2 linked regions of the Homo sapiens genome follow. The protein of the gene in region 2 interacts with the protein of the main gene of each other region in a pairwise test. Each region holds a gene or a part of one and is shown on either strand. Other genes may lie near its edges.

Region 1 (12,320 bases), on a different chromosome or scaffold from region 2:
GGCAACAGAGGGAGACTCTGCCTCAAAAAAAAATTTAAATGATGCCTACCTTCAAGCAACCAGTGTAATAGGGAAAAGACTTGTAACAGAGATGGGGAGGGGAGTAAAATGAAAAAAGCCAGGAAGAAGCATTACCCCCAGAAGAGTCATATTTCACTTGGCAAGGAGCCTCAAGAGTGCTGGTACAGATTAAATGGTATAGAAACTTGACCCGTAGGCTTGTCAGTTCACTTGTCTGTTCTGTAAAAGCAAGCAAGGCTATTCAATCTCAGTCTTTATTCCCTGCCCACCTCATTTGCTCCAGCCCACATCATGAGAACAAATAAAATTCCTTTCTCTACTTCATCCTCCTTTAGAAGACTGGGTGAAAGGAACAACTTTACTCCCAGAAAGCTTCTTTTTCCAACGAACCTAAATGCCAATCCATAAAAAATCTAGATTTCATTGAAAAGAACTTTAGAGTTCAGCAAAAGAGCTAGGGAATCTCAAGTATTCCCCTAACAGAAACCCAAGGTGAGGCCATTTGAATAGCTGTCTGATCTCCAAGGAGCCTCTGGAGAACAGAAAGGAAAAAAAAAAAAAAAAACTATGTTCAAGAAAGATGAACTTGAGTTCAAGATTCACTTAAATGGAAGCCTATAAGGATTACTCTTCCTTTCTTAGAATGTTCCCAAAAACCAGAAGAAAAGGAAAGAGAATCCAAACGATTATATAAATATGTGATGGCATATGTATTTCTCTAGCACATCCTTTCATGAAGATTGCGTTTTGCATGGTACCGGTACAAAAACAGAAACATAGACCAATGGAAAGTACAGAAAACTCAAAAATAAAGCACACACTTAAAACAATCTTATCTTTGACAAGGCTGACAAAAACAAGCACTGGGGAAAGGACTCCCTGTTTAATAAATGGTGCTGGGATAACTGGCTAGCCATATGCAGAAGAATGAAACTGGACCCTTACCTTTCACTATATACAAAAATTAATTCAAGATAGATTAAAGATTTAAATGTAAGATCTCAAACTATAAAAATCCTAGAAGAAAACCTAGGAAATATCCTTCTCAACATCAGCCTTGGCAAATAATTCTTGGCCAAGTCCCCAAAAGCAATTGCAACAAAAACAAAAACTGACAAGTGGGACCTAATTAAACTAAAAAGCTTCTGCACAGCAAAAGAAACTATCAATAGACAACCTACAGAATGGGAAAAAATATTCACAAACTATGCATCCAACAAAGGTCTAATATCCAGAATCTATAAGGAACTTAAGAAGCAAAAACGAAATAACCCCATTTAAAAATGGTCAAAGGACATGAACAGACATTTTCTCAAAAGAAGATATATAAGTGGCCAAGAAACATATGAAAAAATGCTCATTATCACTCATCATCAGAGAAATGCAAATCAAAACCACAGTGAGATACCATCTCATGCCAGTCAGAATGACTATTATTAAAAAGTCAAAAAAGAAAAAACACAGATGCTGGCAAGGCTGCTGAGAAAAGAGGATGCTTATACACTGTTGGTGGGAATGTAAATTAATTCAGCTACTGTGGAAATGAGTTTGGAGATTTCTCAAAGAACTTAAAACAGAGCTACAATTTGACTCAGCAGTCCCATTCATTAGTGGGTATGCCAAAGGAAAATACATCATTCTCCCCATGCACTCGTACATTCATTGCTGCACTATTCACAATAGCAAAGACATGGAGTCAACCTAGGTGCCCATCAAGGTGAACTGGATAAAGAAAATATGGTACATATATACCATGGAGTACTATGCAGCCATAAAAAAGAATGAAATCATGTCCTTTGTAGCAACATGGATGGAGCTAGAGGCCATAATCCTAAGTGAATTAATGTAGGTACAGAAAACCAAATACCACATGTTCTCACTTATAAGTGGGAGCTAAACATTGAGCATTCATGGACATGAACATGGGAGCAACAGACACTGTGGACTGCTAGAGGGGAGAAGGGAGAGGGGTAATGGGTCAAAAACTACCTATTGGGTACTATGCTCACTACCTGGGTGCAATGTACCCATGTAACAAACCTGCACATGTATTCCCTGTATCTAAAATAAAAGTTGGAAGAAAAAGAATATTAATGTGTTTTTAAAGTGTTTATCTCATTCAGCCTAAAAACAGTTCTGTGATATTCAAAAAGTGGTAATCAGTTGGGCATGGTGGCTCATGCCTACAATCCCAACACTTTGAGAGGCCAAGGTGAGAGGATTACTTGAGGCCTGCAGTTCAAAACCAGCCTGGTCAACATACTGAAACCCTGTCTCTACAAAAGATAAATTTTAAATTTAGCTGAGCATGATAGTACATACCTGTAGTCCCAGCTACTGGGGAGGCTGAGGCAGGAGGATTCCTTGAACCCAGGAGTTCAAGGCTACAATGAGCCATGATGATGCCACTGTACTCCAGCCTTAACAACAGAGTAAAATTCTATCTCAGAAAAATAAAAAAGGTAGTAATCATTTTGACTTTTACACATTCTAAGTATACTTTATAAAGAAGTATGACCTGTTTTTTTTTTTGAGACGGAGTCTCTCTCTGTTGGCCAGGCTGGAGTGCAGTGGCACCATCTTGGCTCACTGCCACCTCTGCCTACTGGGTTCAAGCGATTCTCCTGCCTCAGCCTCCCTAGTAGCTGGGATTACAGGTGCGTGCCACCATGCCTGGCTGATTTTTGTATTTTTAGTAGAGATGGGGTTTCAACATGTTGGTCAGGCTGGTCTCCAACTCCTGACCTCATGATCTGCCCACCTCAGCCTCCCAAAGTGCTGGGATTACGGGTTTGAGCCACCATGCCTGGCCTAGGTATGACCTTTCAAATATATAATCTATGAAAGATATCCTCCCTCTAGAAATATTCCTTTAAAAAATTTTTTTAAGTTCTAATTTTCATGGGTACATAGTAGGTGTATATATTTTTAGGGCACATAATATGTTTTGATACAGACATGCAATGTTAACTAATCATATCATGGAGAATAGGGTATCCACCCCATCAAGCATTTTTCCTTTGTGTTACAAACAATCTAAATGTACCCTTTGAGTTATTTTAAAATGAACAATTAAGTTATCATTGACTAGAGTCACCCTGTTGTGCTATCAAATAGCAGGTCTTTTTCATTCTTTTTTTTCTTTTTTGTAACCATCAACCATCCCCACCTCTTCCCCCAGCCCCCTGCTACCCTTCCCAATCTCTGGTAACCATCCTTCTATTCTCTTTGTCCATGAGTTTAATTGTTTTGATTTTTACATCCCACAAACAAGTGAGAACATCCAATGTTTGTCTTTCTGTGCCTGGCTTATTTCACTTAACATAATGATCTTCAGTTCCATTCATGTTGTTGCAAATGACAGGATCTCATTCTTTCTTAGGGCCAAATAATACTCCATTGTGTATATGTACCACATTTTCTTTACCCATTCATCTGTTGATGGACACTTAGATTGCTTCCAAATCTTAGTACTCTAAACAGTGCTGTAACAAACATAGGAGTACTGATATTTATTCGATACACTAATTTCCTTTCTTTTGGGTATATACCCAGCAGTTGAATTGCTGGATCATATGGCAGCCCTATTCCTAGTTTTTTGAGGAACCTCCAAACTGTTCTCCACAGTGGTTATACTAATTTACATCCCCATCAACAGTGTAGAAGGGTTCCCTTTCTCCACATCCTCGCCAGCATTTGTTATTGCCTGTCTTTAGGATACAAGCCATTGTAACTGGGGTGAGATGTTATCTCATTGTAGTTTTGATTTGCATTTCTCTGATGATCAATGATGTTGAGCACCTTTGCTTATGCCTGTTTGCCATTTGTATGTCTTGTTTTGAGAAGTGTCTATGCACATCTTTTGTCCATTTTTTGATGGGATTATTGGATGTTTTCCTATAGAGATATTTGAGCTCCTTATATATTCTGGTTATTAATCCCTTGTCAGATGGGTAGTTTGCAAATACTTTCTCCCATTCTGTGGGTTGTCTCTTCACTTTGCTGATTAGAAATACACTTAAATCATTAAGTGATTGGCACAGCATCCTGTAGAAAGAAAACTGCAGAGGAACATTAGCCTAGATTCCATGAGAAAAGCCAGCCATGAAAAAAAACAGGCTAGATGAACATCAGCGAAAGGAAATCAAAGTGAATATTTTGAATAAAGGAGAAAGTTAAAAGAGAAACCTACAGAAATAGATCTAATAGATCAAACAAGCAGTTGTTAAGCTACTGTAATCAAAACTATTCATGAGACATCACTGGACAAACTAGCTGCACCAAAGGCATGCTCCAAAACATGTTTGGGCGGCCCACAACCAACCTACCAAAACTAAACATTCACTGCCACTACCTAATCAGCATTGTCCTGCTCTGTTCCTCAAGTATCCTGCCTGCTTCCAAGCGCCTCCTCTGGGTTCACTGTATTAGTACAACATTCATGTACTTACTATTCAGTGAAGAACCTGGCAATTCCATATTGGCTAATATCTTCCCTGTTTTCTAGCAGCTGGCACACTGCATCCTCCATGTAGGTGAGGACATGTCGCTGAGCTGCAATCAAATAGCAAGAGAGAAAGAGAAAATGAGAGAAAGATTTTAAAAAGAATGATCCCAATCCTAGTAGGAGGTCATGTGTAAGGCAATCCAGGTGTTGGCTCTGTCTGATGACACTTCATCAGTGGACTGGAATAGGCAAAGCAAACTTGCTGACCCTAACTGAGCTATAGTCTCAAAGGATAGATTGGGAGATGATGTGAACATGACCAATTGCCATTTGACTGGCTGTTAGTATTAGCATCAACCCTTCATTCTTCATCTCAATCACAAGGGTGGGTTGAAGAGGAGATTTAGCACCATTCAGCAGATACACCTGGAAGTTCTTTTCTTTCTACCTCCTTCTATTCTTTTCCATTTCTGCATCAGAAACTTATCCCAGGGAGTTAGTAATTCCATGCTTGAAGCATGGATGGTATGATTGTAAAGAAAACTCTGGCCAGGCACAGTGGCTCAGGCCTGTAATCCCAGCATTTTGGGAGGCTGAGGCGGGTGGATCACTTGAGGTCAGGAGTTCGAGACCAGCTTGGCAACATGGTGAAAACCTGTCTCTACCAATAATACAAAAATTAGCCAGATGCAGTGGCTACTTCCTGAGTAGCTAGTAATCCCAGCTACTCAGGAAGCTGCGGCAGGGGAATTGCTTGAACCTGGGAGGTGGAGGTTGCAGTGAGCCAAGATCATGCCATTGCACTCCAGCCTGGGCGACAGAGCCAGACTTCATTTCAGAACAGAAAAAAAAGAAAACTCAGTTAATTTAAATTAGAAAAAAAAAAAAAAAGTCACTGGAAAGGTTTAAGGACCATGAAAATTTTCGTACTGGTGTATATATAAGTTATTAACTTTGGTAAATAACAAGACCATGAAATCTATCTGGCTTGGTTTATTAGATGTCATGTTTTCTGCATTTGTTGTGACTTGGAAATGTGTGAGTTAATCATGGGCGTATAATAAAAAGTATGAGTATTAGAGTGAGACAGACCTGAGTTTGAATCATGGCTCTGTCTTGGTAGCTTAATCTTGGATAGTTACTTAGTCTACACCTGTTTTCTTCTTTATCAAGTGTGAAAAGCAATATAATTTAACTATGTTTCTCAAAATATGGTCAATCAATTTCTTGATCTGAATCCCCTGGGATGCCGTTTAAAACGCAGATTTATAGTCTGGCACTGTCCCAGATTTAGTGACCTTACATTTTTTACTACAGCCCAGTAATTTTTAACAAGTACTCCTGATGCTTCTTATGTACTCTTAAGTTTAAGAATCACTGGTTAAGAACCTGGGCTTTGGATTACAGAGAGTTGAGAGCTCCATTCTCAGCTCTGCCACTTCCTAGTTATGTGACCATAAACAAATTATTCTTCAAGCCTATTCTTCATGGTAAAATGGGGATAATAATGGTACTTACATTATAGGGTTATGAGAAATAAATAAGATAATACAGGTAAAACACCACTATGTGTTTGGTACATAGTACGTGATTGATAACATGTTTCCTTAAAAGCCTGTCTCAAAGCATTATTGGGAGTTTACTCAGTAAACAACATAGGCCAGAACTTCTTAGATGTCAGGTACTCAAATACTTCTTCCCTTTCTCTGAATTTTATCCTTAGGTATGACAGAGGTTTCCTGACAAACTTTACATAGAAGCTTCCAATTCAGTGTCCACATTTACCATAAAAAATTCAGAAAAATACTTTCATCTGGAGCAGTGAGAACAAAAAACCCCAAAGTGATGAATATCCTTCCAAAAAGCAATTCTATGAAGTTGCTGCCAAAGTAGACATTTACTTCTTTCACAGTTTCATTCCTCAGGAAAATATGATGGAATTACCTAAAATTTATAAATATTGGTATTTCAAAAAACTATTTCTGAAGTCCTGGTAGTCTAGTGAAGCTCATAAAACAAGTAAGTTTACCTGCCAACCTGAGCCCAAAAGTCTTCATTTGACCATAATGATCGCGGTGACCTAAGGTTTCACCACGTTCCCAGCAGCCTAAAGTCCAGATGGATGACCTGTTTACATTCTGTGACTCATTCTATCTAAATGAGTGCTTCCCAAAACTAACAACTATAAACCACTGCAAACCCTGACTGCCCACCCCCAACCCCACCCAAAAAGAGGTGAAAACAAAATCAGTGCCTCAACTCAACAGTTCATCCAACTAGAAAACTGTTTCTTTAAGAAACGGCCAAAACTAAGAGTGAAGCTGTGAGATAATACCTGCCAATTTCTGGTATTGTTTTCAAAATATAATAATTATAATTAGGTGTATATTAAATTGGGAGGGAAAATGGCCAGGGAAACATTAAAATCAGCTGCATTTTCACCTCTGTGTTCTCCTTCCTTTCTTCTATCGGTTTATCCTGATCTTATAAAAAGAGTCCTTCCTTAGGCTATATGGCCTTTTATGACTTAGCTCTACCTAAGGCTAGCACAGGATTTTTTTTTTTTTTCTTTTTGATGGTAGAAATGAAAGAGCTCTACTTAGTAGCAAATCCTGCTGCTTCTCCTCCCTAGCTCCAGGGACTCAAAGTTAATGTGAAAGCTTTTTACGGGATAAATATTTTCAGAGCAGTAAAAATCAAAGTACTTTTGTCCTTCTAGAAAAAAAAAGCAGGAATTTTCAAGAAAATAGACTTTATACCAAAAATATAAAAAAGGAAAGAAAGAAATATATTGGACCATGCATGTTTAACATTAATCTACCAATCAGATATTTAGTTTCATATTACAAATAATAACAGCTACCATTTTTGAGTACTTGCACAATTTATTAAACAACAATGTGACAGATATAGTACTGTACTAATTGTTTCACATGCTTTATTCTATTTCTTCCAAATACAATCCTATAATAGTTATTCTTAGACTTCTATTTTTACAAGTGGGAGAACTGAGACTTACAAAATTAATTTACACAGCTAGTGGGAAGAGAAGCCAAGATTTGAACCAAGGTTTACCTGATACAAGAACCCATTCTCTTAACACGTTGCCTCACCATTAACACTTTATAATCAGTTATGGAAGTAAAAATTATCTTTATTTTACACAGTGCACAAAGGCAGGAATGTATGTTGATAGTAAAATCACCTGAGAGATATGGTCCATTTGGGTCCACGTGAATTTATGTGTGTGTATGTCTGTCTGTCCTGTCCCCCCACCTTCATACCAATCAGCATTTGTGTGAAGTTAGAACTTGTCCCTAAATTTGAAAGTTTCTTGAAAAGAACCATCCCATCCATTCCTAGTTCGCAAAGTAGAAATAGAAAGCCCTGGTGTTCTTTTTACGTGTGGGTGAAGGGAAGAAGCTAAGAAGAAAAGTTCCTCCCTGCAGAGAGTTTTACACCAGCCAACAGCCAAGTGCGAAGCTCTCCCTAATTGCCGTGCCCTGGTGGTTTCCTTCACCTGCAGCTCTTATCAGTCTAATGCTCCCTCTGTGGTTAAGGGTACCACCCAACACGGGAAAATCCTTAGTTTATCAAACTTCAATGAGACAGAAGTTCAAAGCTCTTGCCTGGCAATAAAACACGGAGAGTGTCATTTTACATTTTTTTTAATGCAAAGGAATAGGCTTTAATTTATGTGAATGATTAAAGAATAAAAAACAGCACACCTGCATCCCTGGAGGGCAAAGATATCTGGGCACCTTAGCTGCCCCTTGGAAAAGGAAAAGCATTTAAGACAGGCTTTTCCTCTTTGGCTTTGCCATGACTTCCACAAGATGAGGATTAAGTTTTCTAACCTGTACCTACGCTCTAGTGTCCTAAAATTCACACTAATGCCCAATTGTCCATGTCTTGCTCAGATAGCATCACTGTCTGAGATAAGCATTTAGAATTTCATCATGCTATACTGAAAAATCTAAGGCAAATGTAAGTAAACACTATATGATCCTTACTTGAACCTAGCAAGTGAAGGCAATTGTGGATCAGAAACTTCTTGGTTCTGTTGACTCACCCCATGTTGATCACGTAATCTCTTTATAACACTGTCAATCCTGCTATAAAATGGGTATGATTCTAAGAATATGTCTGATAATAAACTACTTCTTTAGAAAGCATTCAATATATGCAAAATGTAACATGTTAATGATTATATTATTATTGCTACATGCTGACTCTACAGATTAAAACAGCATAACAATTTTTACTGCAATGGTTAAGAATATGGGTTCTTGAGCCAACTGAACCTGGATATGATTTCTAGCTCTGTCATTTACTGACTGTGTAACTTCATATAAGTTACCTTATCTCTCTGCCCTTTTCTATAAAATTGGGCAATACTAGTACCTACCACAGAAGACTGTGGTGAAGATTAAATAAAATAATCTATGTAATCATCTTAGAATAGTGCTTGGCACATAGTAAGTGCTCAAACAATATTAGCCCCTTACCCCCTTATTGAAAGTTCTGCTCATCAAACCAAGATGTTTAGACTATCTTCAAGGATTCTTGGGCTATATAAAATCTATAACTATAAAAATATACATCATCATATACCCATTTCAGGTATGACCTTTAAACTTGTAGGAAGCATTCACTTATTAACTGCTAATTACTCAGCAGGCCCTAATTTATATGGGGAAAATCCAAAACTATTTATTTTATTCTCTTCCCAAGCATAAATACCATAAAAGCATTAGTTGTTTATTTCACAATTAAATGATAAGGGGTCCTATTTGGAAATTTTTGTTTGAGGGGTCTAGAATTTCCACCTTAACATTAGTTAGAGCACTCTTTTTTAAAAATTATTATTTAATACAGAGTCCCAATAATAGAATAACTAAGTCTCACTGGAAAAAATCTTCATATGAATTGCTATATATGATATTAACAGATGCACACATAGGCAATAGCAGTACAAGTGAAAAGCAGAGTATATACATATACTCAACTTTAAACCTGACTTTTTCCCCCCTTGCCAGAGTTTGATAAATAAATTGATAAATACATAGAGTTTTCCTTTCTTCCTTTTGAGACATATTTTGGTCTATGAGGCCTCTTGAGATTGAGATGCTGGATGGCACAAATAAATGTTTGCTGAACTAAATTAAAATGTTCTCTGAGATTTAAAAAAAAAAGTAAACCTGTTAATCAACAACCTGTCATGTAAACTGCTTAGAAGTTTCAAGTTCAATATCATTTATAAATCACTAACATAATCTAGTATTTGATCTTGTGAGGTACAAATAGATAGCTTAATGGTTTAAACAGTTAATAGACCTCTAAAATTTATTATTTACATCCTCCATCTTTACTGGTATATCCTGGTCCAAGGATATAGTGTGTTCTTGTGAAACATTTTGTCATCCATACGAGACCATCTTTGATCTTAGACCACACTAGACCAATTTCCCTTAACCAAAGGGAATGGGGAAATGAGGAAATCTAGCACATGTAATTCTTATACAACCCAACGAAGTAGGTAATAGCAATTTTTTTAAAAACTAGAGAGGTTAAGAAACCTGCCCAAAGTCTAAATAAATGGCAGAGCTTGGATTCAAACTTAGATTTGACTCCAAAGCCCGTATTCTTCCATTCACCCCACTACCTCTCAAAACCAAAAATGAAAGCAAAACAAGAAAAATCCAAAAACCTACAAAGTGCCCCATCTTACGTTGTATTATCTAGAAATTGCTGGCTCTTCCCTGTTAATACTTTATAGTATTAAGAAGCTTAAATTGGTAAATCAAAGTACTGGTATGATCTTTAAATTTTTAAAAATGTTTATTTCTAGTTAAACACACAATAATTTTTAAAGGTTCAAACAATACAGATAAAGCTAAAGACTAATTCCAGTTCCCATAGATAACAACTATTATCAGTTTGGGGTACATATTTTCAAAAATACAGAAATATAGTTTGTGAGCTTGTTCTGTTTTCATGTTTTAAGTTGTTTTTAAGTGTCTGATATATCCTTTCTGCATCTTTTTTTTTTTTAATCAACAATGTCTGGAGATCTTTTATAAAACAATATGGAACCTACTTACCTTTTTGATAGTTCCCAATGGTAAATATTTCCCTACTGATAAACATTTAGGTTGTTTCCATGTTTTCACTATAATAAACTGGGCTGTGTTGAACATTCTTGTACGTGTTTCCTTGTATATATGTGCAAGAGTTTTTCTAAGGTAGATTCCTCAAGATGGAATTGGCATTTCATAGGATGCACAGGATATCTTCATGTTTACCAGAGATAGACAATTGCTTTTACAAATTAGTTATTCCAATTTACACACCACCAGCTGTATGAGTATCTATTTTCACTATCCTTGGCCTAATGCTTTTTAATTTTGCCGATTTAATAGTTAGAAAATAGCTTTTCTCTGTTGTTTTAATTTTACTTTTCTTGATTACAAATAAAGTTAAGCACATTTTCATGTTTATTTGTATTTCTTATCCTTTGCCAATTTTCTTCTCTGGTTGTCTTTTTTTCTTCTTCTTGACTTGTAGATAATTCTATACATGTCACAAATACATACATCTACTTCATGGTCTTCTTTTAACTTGTCTGTGGTATCTTTCATTTTACAGAAGTTTTAAGTGTTGATACAGTCAAAATAATGTATCTGTGGCTTTTTTTTGGTGTGCTTTGTGTCCTATTCAAAAAGGCCTTCTCTACTCCAAGTGTATAAGCCTATTATCCTATATTCCAGTCTGTACTGCATGATACTGCCACCTTTAAAGAGCCATGCAGTATGACATGTATCAAACAGAACTTTCTGAGAACAAATTTGCAAATTAAGGAATGACCTTTTATTTTATAATTGTTAATTATAAAACAGACAAAAGCAATACATTGCATCTATGCATCCAAACCACTAAAGTCCTGCTATACGGCTAGTCAAACTCAAATACTAAAAGACACGCCAGAGGCAAACAAAGCATTACACATATGCTAACATCACCTGTGACAACCAGAAAACAAGAGGTGTCTAAAGATCTTTATGTTAAGTAGAGGATGAAAAACTAAAGTCTATTTCCCTCAACCAAAAGGGGTATTGTACTGGTTAATAGCTGTGAAAAGCTGAGTGCCTTGACACTCAAAACAGTCTCTGGTCAACCATTAATCCTCCCCTCTTCCCTTCTCTTTCCTAAAACTGGTGGGTTTTTTTGTTTTTTTGTTTGTTTGTTTGTTTTATATATAGTTTTGGGATGTCAATTAAGGGTAAGTGCTTAAATCCTACTGCCTCAGTATTTCCAGCCTAAATCTCATAATAATACAGCATTTGTAGGTTGGAGTCCTGCAATTTCAAGTGCCAGAAACTACAGAATCTTTTTTATTTTAAGTCAGAGTCTCGCTGTTGTCACCCAGGCTGGAGTGTAGTGGCGTGATCGCGGCTCACTGCAACCTCCACCTCCAGGGTTCAAGCGATTCTCCTGCCTCAGCCTCCTGAGTAGGTGGGATTACAGGCGCCCGCCACCATGCTCAGCTAATTTTTGTACTTTTAGTAGAGACAGGGTTTCACCATGTTGGCCAGGCTGGTCTCAAACTCTTGACCTCAGGTGATCCGCCTGCCTTGGCCTCCCAAAGTGCTGCGATTACAGGCATAAGCCACCGCGTCCTTTTTTTTTTTAAGGAGATTTTCATAGTTCAAACTTAAAGCACTCAGCTAGCTGACCATAACAAAATGTACTTCCTGAACACCAGAGAAATCTAAAGTAGCACTTAAGTTTCCCACAGTTACAATCTAAGGGACATATGAAGAACCCAAGTAATATTTGTCATGGCAATAAC
Region 2 (12,320 bases):
TCTCCTCCCCTAGCTGAGCTCCAGATAAGCACCTAGTGCTGGTTGAGAGGGCCACGCCTTAGGCAAAGGCCATGTTCAGGTCCTCCTTATCCTTGGAATGACAAACTCCCAGAAGCCTGCCTGGATTATCCCCGGCCTCCAGGAGTGCTTTGCTGCTCTCTCACTTAGCTCTTCTTACATTTGGCCTTTCGTGAAGGTCAGCAGCGGGCACACATATTTACTCTCAACCCTCTGAGTGTGCGACTGCGTCCCTCTCACGTCTGCACCCCCAGTGGTCTGGAGTGTTTGTTCAGATCCCTGCAAGGCGAGCTGAATGCCAGGAACCAGCTTACAGGCCAGGTGTCCTTCCTGGGGACACCTGTCCTATTAATCTATTTGCTCAAACTCAGAGCCTGCCTCTTCCGCTCATTTTATACTCTCCCTCTCATCTGTCCCACATTTCGGATCTACAGAAGACACCTCATAAATAGCAATGATGTGGCTGAACTACATCCCAATACCTGTTGTAGGCATTGATGAACAGGTGCAGGTTGCCGGGGTTCATGTCATTCACAATGTGCTGGCGGTAGGTGTGGACCACTTCCACGTTACTCTGCATTTCTTCCTGCATTTAGAGAGGTGAGAAGATGGTCCTCATCGCACTGTGGCCCTGAGCTGGTCACTACTCTCTCCATTCTCCAGGTTATTTGGAGACAAAGTAAAGATAATAATGCCTAATCCACAAGACAGCGACGGACCTAAAAAAAAAACCTTTGGGAAAGCAACACGCCCAACCAGGTGCAGACAGGGGTTTCACTATCCGCTGGGAGCAGAAAAGACCCCCATCCTGGAAAGGCCACACCCCACCCTTCCAAACTCATTACTTTGGGAGTTTCAATTTGAAGTCAGACATCCTGGATCTAGAGCTTAGCTTCATCACTGTCCCTTTCGTAGGCAAATCTTTCAACCTCTCTGAGCCTCAGATCTCTTAAAAAAAAAAAAAAAAAAAAGGGAAGAGAGAGAATGTTGCCTACTTCACTAGGTTGTAGGACTTAATGGAGGTTGTGTTCTCACCTCTACTAACAGTAAAAATTGGAGGCAAATGTTAGTAATTGTTTTCCAATGGGAAGAGCTGAAAAGAAGTTTTTCATGCTTGAAAAGCAAAATCAACTCATGCCACAGGAAGTTACTGAAAAGAAGGGCAATTGCAACTCCCACCACGGCCAACCAGAGCCTTGGGGAAGTCGGCCTCAGCCTCCCCGTCTCTGGGTGCTTTTTGAATGTTATTTGCGACAAACAACTTGTTTGCTCTGTTTCTCATTTGTACGAGGGCAGACACTGTAGGTTTCACACAAGGGTCTGATATGACCAGTGGCAACCAGATGAGAAGTTGGAGTTGGGGGTCAAAGAAAGCCGGTGTCAAGCTTGAGCTGCATCAAACAGTCCAGGATCATTTAGGCAGCAAGGAGGTCAACTGGCTACTAAGAGCAAACTCTGGAAAAAATAGTCAGGAATCACGCTGGGATTTCAGATCAAAACCAACTATAGCGATCTGGGGGTACCCTCAGACACCATGGCCGGACCAACCAGTCTCCAAATAACTTGGGGTATAATCAGATCAGATGCTCAACGCTATGTCTGACATCCCTCCTCCAGTGAAACAGAGACAGTGGCTGTGAATTTTTCCCAATTCCTATCAGTTTCAGATTACACACTCAGGACAGGGAAAATGTGTCACACGCTGTGGAATGAATCGTAAAAGGGGAAAGAGGACTCTAGTGGGCTAAACTGTGGCCCTCAAAAGATATGTCCATGTCAAATCTCTTGAACTTGGGAATGCAAACTTGCTGGGAAAAAGGGTTTTTGCAGGTGTAATTAATTAAGGATCTTGAGATGAGATAATCCTGGATTACATGAGCCGGGATGAAATCCAATGGAAAGTATCCTTAAAAGAGGAAGGAGAGGGAGAAATAAAACAGACACAGAGGAGAAGACCATGTGAAGACAGAGGCAGAGAGTGGTGTGAGCAGCCACTAGCCAAGGAATGCCGACAGCGACCTGGAGCAGTAAGAAGCAAGGACGAATTTCCCCTGGAGCCTGTGGCGGAGGGGCGGCCCTGCCAGCGCTTGACATCGGAGTTCTAGACTCAGAGCTGTGAGAGAATACACTTTTGTTTTCCTTTTTCTCTGTTTTTGAGACAGAGTCTCCCTCTGTCTCACCCAGGCTGCAGTGCATGGCGCGATCTCGGCTCACTGCAGCCTCTGCCTCCCAGGTTCAAGTGATTCTCCTGTCTCAGCCTCCCGAGTAGCTGGGATTACAGGCGCGTGCCACCACATCCGGTTAATTTTGTATTTTCAGTAGAGACGGGGTTTCACCATGTTGGCCAGGCTCGTCTCGAACTCCTGACCTCAGGTGATCCACTCGCCTAAGCCTCCCAAAGTGCTGGGATTATAGGTGTGAGCCACCCTGCTCATCCCACTTTCGCTGTTCTAAGCCATCCTGTTTGTGGTAATTTGTTACAGAAGCCACAGGAAACCAACACAACAGGCAAACCTAGCAGTTGTACTCGCCAACTCCAGAGTGGAGCCTCTGTTCCCCTGGTACACTCGCCAACTCCAGAGTGGGGTCTCTGTTCCCCTGGTACACTCGCCAACTCCGGAGTGGGGCCTCTGTTTCCCTCGTACACTCGCCAACTCCGGAGTGGGGCCTCTGTTTCCCTCGTACACTCGCCAACTCCAGAGTGGGGCCTCTGTTCCCCTGGTACACTTGCCAACTCCAGAGTGGGGCCTCTATTCCCCTCGTACACTCGCCAGCTCCAGAGTGGGGCCTCTGTTTCCCTCGTACACTCACCAGCTCCAGAGTGGAGGCTCTATTCCCCTCGTACACTCGCCAACTCCAGAGTGGGGACTCTATTCCCCTCGTACACTCGCCAACTCCAGAGTGGGGCCTCTATTGCCCTCGTACACTCGTCAACTCCAGAGTGGGGCCTCTATTCCCCTGGTACACTCGTCAACTCCAGAGTGGGGCGTCTGTTCCCCTGGTGTACTCGCCAGCTCCAGAGTGGAGGCTGTGTCCCCAGGACTCATGGGAGTGTCAGATGGTCACACATGTTAGCTCAGAAGCAGACAGTGGTATGTAAGCAAAGCAGGTCACTGCAATTTCAGGCAACCAAGGGGTTTTCCAGACCCTGGGCTTGCAACCAAGCCCATGGCATACCCTTCCCGAGGGTAGCTGGCCCCAGCTAGAGACACAAAACCAGTGTCTGGGGCCAGGCAGGCTGGGCTGATAAGATGACTGCTCACTTCTAGCATGCTGTGAGGGGCTTGGCTCAATCCCCTTTAGTGGGGTAACTCTGCAGAAGAGCAGCTCATCTCAGAGCCAGGCAGCAGCACAGGCAGCCGCCATCCTGCTGTGGTGACCAGAATGAAGCCAGATTCATAGGTTCTAATACCGGCCCCACCTCTCCCTGGTTGAGACCCTATGCAAGTCACTCAACCTCTCTGGTCTGTTTCCTCTTCCATAAACTGGGAATGAGAACAGAATTTATCACACAGGTCACAGAGCACCTGGGTGGAATCCTATTCCTATAGTTAACACTTGTGAAGCTCTTAGGACTGAGCCCAGCCCAGCACACAGCTAACTCCACGGACATGTTTGCTACTGACCAGATTTATAACAGCCCAGAACTGGGAACAACTCAAAGGTCTTATCAACAGGTGAATGGAAAAACAAACTGTTGCACATACATAAAATGGAATACTTCTCAGCACTAAAAAGGAATAAACTTTTTTTTAAGAGACAGGGTCTCTCTGTCACCTAGGCGGAATACAGTGGGCTATCCCAGCTCACTGCTCACTGTAGCCTCAAACTCCTGGGCTCAAGCAATCCTCCTGCCTCAGCCTCCCAAGTAGCTAGGACTATAGGCATGCAGAACCACCATGCCTGGCCAATTTTTAATTTTTCTGTAGAGACAAGGTGTCACTATGTTGCCCAGGCTGGTCTTGAACTCCTGGGCTCAAGCAATCCTCCTGCCATGGCCTCCCAAAGTGCTGGGATTATAGGAATGAGCACTGCACCCCGACTAGGAATAAACTATTGATCCACTCATTAACATGGACAAATCTCAAAATGGTTATGCTGAGGGAAAGAAGCCAGACCAAAAAAAAAAAAAAAAGAGTACCTACTATATAATGCCATTTATATAAAATTCTAGGAATTGCAAAGCAATCTATAGAGGCCAATGCTGATCAGAAGTTGCCTGAGGAGGAGGGAGAGGAGGACTATCAAGGGGCACAAGGAAACTCTTGGAGTGATGGAGACGTTATTCTCCTGATTACAGGGATGGTTTTACAAATGTATATGCATGTCAATTGTACACTTTAAATATGTGCAGTTAATTGTACTTCAATCAGCTGTTTTTAAAAGACACATAAAAAAGAGAGAGAATGAATGACTTGTTGCTTATGAATGAATAATGTCACATTATCTCATGAGCACCAGCTCGGTGGCCCCCAGTTGATTGTGTCTTGTTCTCTCCACCCCCACATGGGGCCCTGTGCTGAGCACCACACAATGCCTTGCTCAGCAGGAACAACAGATTTGCCAGACCACGCAACTCACCTTCCCAAAAAGGTGGGACACCACCATGTCCGGCAGAGCTTGGGTCCATCCTGAGATCTGGAAAGGAGTAAAGTGGGTGGATGAGAAACCAGGAGCTAACAGTAGTTAACAAGGTCAGCAAAACCCCACTTCCCTGGGTGCAGGGTGGCATTGCTGGACTCCCCCCTACATGCAGGCCTCAAGGACATCCCCCTTGATAGAAACTCAGTTCCTGTCTCCAGTTCCCTCCTGGACCTGATCCCCCAAATGCAGGGCCTGGGACTATATCCAGTTCCTTATTTTCAGAGGCCCATGCACAAGATGCACAGCAAATAAGTGCTGAATAAAGACCCAGCTACTGCTAGCTTACCCTGCTCCAAACATTCACCAAGTCCTCAGCAAAGAGGGCCATCCATTCACCTCTTCTAAAAACACACTGAGCTCCCCAGTCTATACCCCAAGATATGCTTGGCTCCCAACTATCCCTCCTCTCTCATCTCCAAGCCAGTTTCCCCTTTCTAAGTATACTGATATTACCAAAGACACTGACAATCTTCTTTTCCTACCTCTCCCCAGTGACTAGGTTTGCAGCAGGAGCTCTATAAGTCCTAGTATACAGCAGAAGCTCCATAAATGTGTGCTGACCTAAGCATTAGGCAAAAATGAGTAGGAGAGAAGCTCTAGACCTAAGGGTCTTTGGCTGGCCCTTGCCTGCCACAGCCTAGCTGTGTGGCACTGGGCAGTCTGCATACCTCTGGGTCTCAGACTTCTAATCTGGAACTGGGAGTGCCAGGAACTTCAAGGCCACAAGGTCAAGGGAAGGACTGCAAGAAGTAACTGCACACATCACAGTATCTAATACCAATGCCTGGTAATCGAAAGGCTGGAGTTGAAAAAGAAGGGAATAGTACAGCTATTAAAGCTGTACTGAAGGGAATAGTACAGCTATTAAAGACAATCCTCAGGCTTCACATTAGCCAGTGGTCGACATCCCCAGACCTTCGAGTCTCACTCAGGACAGCTATCATGAAGCCCAGCGGGTTGACTGGAATGTCACTTCCTTTGCTGGAAAATCAAATAAAAAACAGGGAGTGTGTTCCACTCCAGAACGTCATACAGGCTGGACGGAAGGGCTCCTGCATTCTGGAGGAATGTTCAAAGAACAAATGCAAAATCACAGTGGCTGGTACAGGGCAGGGGATGGGGCAAGAGGCAGGGCCCCTTCAAACCATCGGTCCCTGGCAGCCACCCAAAATTGGGCAAAAATGCACTTGCAGAATGAGAAGCTGCGATCACCTCAGCTTGAAAGACTCTGTCCTATTTCAACTGGAATGACCTCCCCCTCTCCTTGGCCAACACTGAGGCCTTTACAGGGAAAAAAACAAAAACAAAAACACCACAATGATAATTTTTAAAAGATAAACAAGGAACCTTAGGACACCAGCCAGGACAGAGCTTCCCAAGACAGCACAGGTCCCTTCTCCTCCAGGCAGCCTACCCTGCTTGCCAGGCCTGCCTGTCTCCCACCCTGGACAGGAGCCCCAGGGGCACGGGTGGTCAGGTCCACGAACCACAAAGTCAAAGCAAGCTGCATCCAGTCCCCGTTCTACTGCCTAGCTTTATGTGACCCTGGACAATCCCCTTAGCCACACCGAGTCCTTACCTCTGAAACGGTGATAAAAATTCTCACCTCCTAGAGTTACTATGAAGATTAACTGAGATCATGCACACACAGCAACGTAGAATGAAACTAGCACATGGTAAACTCTCAATCTACGTTAGCTAATTATTATCGTAAAATTCTGTGGCACAGTCCGTACTAAATACATATTTATTTTTCTTTAATAATATGTGAATGGATTCCTAAGATTCATTCCTAGAGGCTTTTGTCTTGTTCATCTCAAGAAGTCTTGTTCTTCAAGATGCTCAGCATCTTGACCAAAGCCTGGCACAAGTTATGTACCCAGCTAATACTCATTAATCCAAGCAATGCTTCTCCAAGCTGCCTCAGGGACCTGTGTCCCAGTGCTTTCCCTGGCTTAGACAGCTTGGTGGTATTTAAGTCTTCTGAATGGCAAACGGCTGAGGTCATGTGTACTGTTCTAAGTAAAGCAGAGGGAACTGGAGTGGGCAGTAGAGGGTAGTGGAGGAGTGGGTAAAGAGAGAGCTCGTAGCTCCAGGGATCCCCCAGGCAGAGGCTGTGTGCACCTGTCCCTCTTCTTGCAGGGATCCCGCCGGCCTGACAGGCCCCCACCTCACCTTGGAGGCGGCCCAGTCCATCCAGCCTTCCGCACAAGGGTTCACGTTGATAAGGACAAGGCCCTCCACCATCTCAGGGTTGTTTAGCTGCAATTCAAGACACAAAGTGAGACAGACATCCCAGCAATCTGAAACACTAGGAACTTTCCAAGGCAAACCAAAGCTTGAGAGAAGTACCCAGAAAAAGGCAGTGTGGGCAGCAGAGCAGGCTGCTGCTCCCCGGCCCCACCCCATGCAAAACTGAGGTTCCAGCACAGCAGACACGGTATCGGGTCCTAGAGAGAGTGGGAAGGAGAAAGAGGAAGTGCAGGAGAAGTAGGAAGCCCGCTGCTTTGCAGGCCTGCCTTGGGCAAGTCACTTCAACCCACGGAGGCTCAGCTTCTCCAGCTATCAAATGGGTGTAACACACCATCGACCTCATCAATCAAACAAGGCGCACAGCACAAATGCTCTCTAGTTGTGGCAGTAACAACTGTATTACTTACTTCCAGGATAAACACATGCATACACACACACACACACACACACACACACACACACAGAGAGAGAGACAGAGTTATGCATCGCTGAATAACAGGGATACTTTCTGAGAAAATTCATCATTAGGAGATTTTGTCATTGTGTGAAGATCTCAGAGTATACTTACACACACCTAGACAGTATAGTCTACAACTCACCAAGGCTGTATAGAACAGCCCTTTGCTCCTAGGTTTGCTGTACAAACCTGTACAGCATATGACGCTACCCAATACTGCAGGGAATTGCAACACAATGCTAAGTATTGATGTATCTAAGCAAATCTAAACATAAAAATGGTACAGTAAAAATGAACCATTATAATCTTATGGAACCACTGTCAAATGTGCAGTCTGTCATTGACCAAAATGTCATTATGTGATGCAGATACATACAGATATAGATATGTACACCTGGGGTACAGTTGAGACCATTTTTAATTTGCTGAGAGCCTATATGGCCAGACCATTTTGTATTCATGTCAGCATTCCTTTCTTTTTTTTGTAAGATGGATGTTGTAGAATCATGTCAGTATTCCCAACCTCCAGCAAAGCCCAGCAAATAATAGGTAGTCAAAATACCAATGGATGTACAAAATGAGTATTGTTGCATTCTTACACAATTGCTCGGTGAGGATACAAAGGAACAGTGGCTCTTGACCTGAGCCCAGAGAAATAACAATGACAACTGTCATGAAAACTTCCCGTGTCTGATTCTAGTTTAGAATCAGTTATGACCCAGGAGTGCCCTGACTACAAAAACCTGTACAGCTGTTACAAAGCAGTGTCATAGCAGAGTACTCAGTGAGTGAGGAGCGTCCTCACTAGATGGCTAAGCGGACAAAGCCCATGACAAAGGAATGTGTCCAGTATCATCCTTGAGTGGAGGAAGAGAAAAGGCTGTGAGTATATATATATACGAGTACCCATGCACCACACACACACACACACACAACTGTGGAGAATACGGGTCATTTCTTTTTCCCTTTTGGGTTTTTGATGCTTTTCCAATGTCTTCCTTCATCTTAAAATGTTATTTAAAATGCGATTTTCAAAAAATGCCAAAGCACTCACAGCAAATCGAGTTAGGATGTAGGCGCCTGCTCCTGTTCCCATGCCAATAATGCTTTTCAGCCTGGAAGCAAAAATACAAATGCATGTCACACAAGGACAGAGTGACGGGAGCCTCCAAGGACCCACTTAGAACTTCCTGAGGGTGACCGCCTGGCTAGGCAATGCGGGAGCATGCTGCCGTAACTGCCTGCACAGCTCTGAGGTCACCATGCTTTAGGACTGGACAGAGACCTCGACCTTGGAGAGCCGCGCCCCTTCTCCTCACTTCCCTCCTGGCCGCCACCCAGGCTCTGAGAGACCGTCTGACATTTACGGGAAGGCCCGTTACGGCATCATTTCTTCCCACTCTTAAGCTTTATTTTGGATTCTAAAACTTGGAATGAAAACAAATTGAGCAAGAACCATGAAGTTATCATTCTTTGAAGAGCTCAAGACAGAGAGGAACACTGGAAAAATGAGGGTGTGGAGAGAAAAGCTAAGGACTCAGGCAACTCCATTCCAGAACATTCCATGGGAAAGAGAAGGGAATGGAAGAACAGGAGGCAAGAGCAAATGGGTGGGGCAGCTGCCATCATGCAATATAACATTCACGCAAGAGGAAAACTGAAGTTAGAGGAGACAGACTAGAGCTCAGAGACTGTGTGAAGAACAGTGTTCACAGAGTGACGAGCTAATTTCTTGCCTCATCTCTAAATTGCAACCTTAATTTTAGTGGTCAGTCCAGATCAAAGCCAAGGGGCAGGAAGATGCTAGAAACCAGGCTTCTCTGCAGACAGAGAAGGAGCTGATCCTTCGCTCTTACCCAAACTGTTGAAGGACTCCAGGAAGCATTTCAGCCAGCTGATCCATGGAGGGGTACATGTACCTGGGGATGACACAGAGAAGCCATTAGTGAGCGCCCGGACAGAAACGGGTAATCCAAACAGGGACACGCTTGAAGGGTGGGGACCATGCAGCAGCCTGCCCCATGCACCCAGACCCCCCCACCCCCAAGTCTAGTCCCTTCGCATCCTCCTTCCAAGACCCCTGCAGCACACTCTATCAATTGCTTCCTACGCTCCAGGTCCCATGGACACATTCTGGGAATTAGCTCATTCAATTTTCACAATAACTCTAGGAGGCTGCTAGGATTTCCCCTCATAGCAAGATTATAAACATCACTGAGGCTGAGAGATGAGACACTTGGCCTCACAAGAGCAGTAGATGGTTAGCCAGAAACATGTCCTCACTGTGTTTGTCTGGTTTTGGGTCTAGGGTGTTGCAGAAACTGACTAGAAGGCATTTCACAATTCCAATGTCAGGGAGAAGGAATTAAAACAGGCATGAATGAGTTCCATCCGCAAAGCAGTGATTGATCCTCACACATGCCGGGCTCTTGGTGAGGCAATGGCAGGGGTCTGTGAGCAAAGCAGATGCAAACCAGGACAGGAGCCAGCCCTCGAGTCAACAGAAACAGGGGGTGTTACTCATAACAAAGCCTATCGAAACAGAGACCTGCCGTGCTCAGATGATCAGGGAGGGCTTCTTGGAAGAAGTGACGCTGAAGGGGTCATGGGAACCTGATGAGTAAAGCGTGTGGGCAGGGAAGCAGTGTATGCGGACGCCCTGGGAAGAGCCAGAAAGAGCCCGTATGGTGTGGCTCCACATCAACAGAGCCACTGAGCTGAGAAGCCGCAGGGCAGAAGTGCGGCAAAGACATGAAGCTCCTCTGAAATGGCCATGGCTCAATTTGGAGCCAGCAGCTCCTAAGGTGTGACACTGGAGAAGCCACTTAATTGCAGGGCCCTCTGTTTCTTCCCTGTTCCCCAGGGCTGGTGTGAGGCGAGGAAGCAGCAGAATTCTACTTCCAAGGTCCCTCCTGTGTAGGTGGTGGACACCGGGGCCAGGAGGAGCCCAGCCAGGGATCCCCTACCCTGCTCTGCTGTCTCGGCTTCAGAATACAGGGGGCTCACCCTTAAAGGGCCTGGGAGATGCTCCCTCACCCCTCCCAAGCCCCACACTCTCCTCTGCCCTACTCCAGGAGGAAGAAACAAGTCAGGTCCCACTCTGACAGTGGGTCCCACCAGATGCACACGAAAACCACATAGTAAACTAGGGGGAAAATGCGCTGTAATACCCAGACCAACGGAATAAAAATTCCTGGGGGTGGGGCTCAGGCCTCAGAATATTTGTAAAACTTCACCAGGGGGAACTAAGAGTCTCTGCTTTCCCCCAAGTCTTTCACACAACTGGTCCAACCAAAGATTTACGGACACACCTCTGGCTTTATCTGCTGGTTAACAATTAACCACGTCCCACTGTTTTAATACACTTTTAATTTTTGGTCCTGGCCCCATACGGTTGGCTGTCCCTTCCCTTCCTCTCTGATAAAGGTTAATTATTAAGGATAATTCTGAACACTAATAAAAAAGGATATCTATTTATAAATGCCAAGAAGGCCCCTTCTGGAAGACTTTAAGCCCAAGAACCTGCTCCTGCCCTAGTTTAAACACAGGTCAGGTGCAGGGACAAGAGGGGTTATCTCTGAGGTCTGCCACCCCCACATGATGCTGATTGGGGGATCCAACAAGCTTGACCATAATTGCACAAGGGGAAATTGAAAGGCCATGCCCATACAGATCACGAGCTGACAAGGGCCAGGCAGTGCAAATACTCTCAACTAAGGCAGCCTGATGTTCCAAAGAGGATACACGTCTCAGTAGATAGGATCAAAGCCAACTCCCCAGTCATCAGCTGTGCAACCTTTTTTTCTTTTTTGGAGACAGAGTCTTGCTCTGTCACCCAGGCTGGAGTGCAGTGGTGCGATCTTGGCTCACTGTAACCTCTGCCTCCCAGGTTCAAGGGATTATCTGGCCTAAGCCTCCCGAGTAGCAGGGATTATAGCCACCCGCCACCACGCCCAGCTCATTTTTGTATTTTTAGTGGAGACAGGGTTTCATCACGTTGGCCGGAGACAGGGTTTCACCATGTTGGCCAGGCTGGTCTCAAACTCCCAACCTCGGTGGTCCGCCCACCTTGGCCTCCCAAAGTGCTGAGATTACAGGCATGAACCACCATGCCCGGCCTCAGCTGTGCAACCTTCAGCAAGGTAGTTAATGCCTCCATGCCTCAATATGTTTGTCTGGAAAATGGAGCTAACAACAGCAGCCACACAGAGCTAGCTGTAAGGATTAAGCCCAGTGTTAGACACAAATGATGAAGCCTAGCCCACAGGAAGGGCTCCATCAATGTTACTTCTCTCCCTCTCTGTTTCTCCCCAGACTTCTAGGTTTTTCTTCACACTATTTGGTGGTGTCAAGTCCTCCTCCACTGAAGTCCTGTCCAGGCTGAGCACACCTATCGTAACGCCAGCCTTGCAGGAAGGCTGGGGGAATGGGGAGATAGTATCTGATAAGTATGTTGTTTCAGTTTGGGAAGATGAAAAAGTCCTGGAGATGGATGGTGGTGACGGCTGCACAACAATGTCTGCATGTCCTTAATGCCACTGAACTATATACTTAAAAATAGTGAAAGTGCTAACTTTTATGTTATGTATCTTTTCCCACAATTTAAAAAGTGCTTAAGATGATACGTTTTATATTTTACCACAGTTAAAAAGTATTTAAAAGAGCAAAGCACCTGAACCCCTCCCCGACACCCAGTTTCCACCCTGTAGAGCTCATAGGGCAAGAGGCCTCTCACCCTGCGGGGAAGGAGGCTGCGCCGTCCTGCTGGCCAGGGGCGTCCACGTGGCAGACGGCAAAGTGCTGGGTGATCTCCTGCATGTCCTCGTAGTTGAAGAGGGGGTTGTAGCAGGTTTTGTCTGAAGAACAGCAGTGAGGGAGAGAAGAGAAAAAAGTAAGATGAGAAAAAAATTAGGTGTCTCGGTGGCAAAGCACATTCATTTTGTTTCAT

Evidence for each region.
Region 1: the proteins of NDRG1 (region 2) and CSTPP1 interact in binary tests that used the Homo sapiens proteins (3 or more experiments, as listed by UniProt).

Annotation. Positions count from the first base shown.
Region 1 is NC_000011.10:46,979,463-46,991,782, reverse strand, and holds part of CSTPP1 (centriolar satellite-associated tubulin polyglutamylase complex regulator 1), read right to left. Parts: intron 4,576-12,320; coding exon 4,473-4,575; intron 1-4,472. UniProt on the Homo sapiens protein: Regulator of the tubulin polyglutamylase complex (TPGC) that controls cytoskeletal organization, nuclear shape, and cilium disassembly by balancing microtubule and actin assembly.
Region 2 is NC_000008.11:133,249,940-133,262,259, forward strand, and holds part of NDRG1 (protein NDRG1), read right to left. Parts: intron 12,229-12,320; coding exon 12,108-12,228; intron 9,292-12,107; coding exon 9,229-9,291; intron 8,488-9,228; coding exon 8,427-8,487; intron 6,925-8,426; coding exon 6,838-6,924; coding exon of another isoform or gene 6,787-6,837; intron 4,657-6,786; coding exon 4,600-4,656; intron 605-4,599; coding exon 501-604; intron 1-500. UniProt on the Homo sapiens protein: Stress-responsive protein involved in hormone responses, cell growth, and differentiation. Acts as a tumor suppressor in many cell types. Necessary but not sufficient for p53/TP53-mediated caspase activation and apoptosis.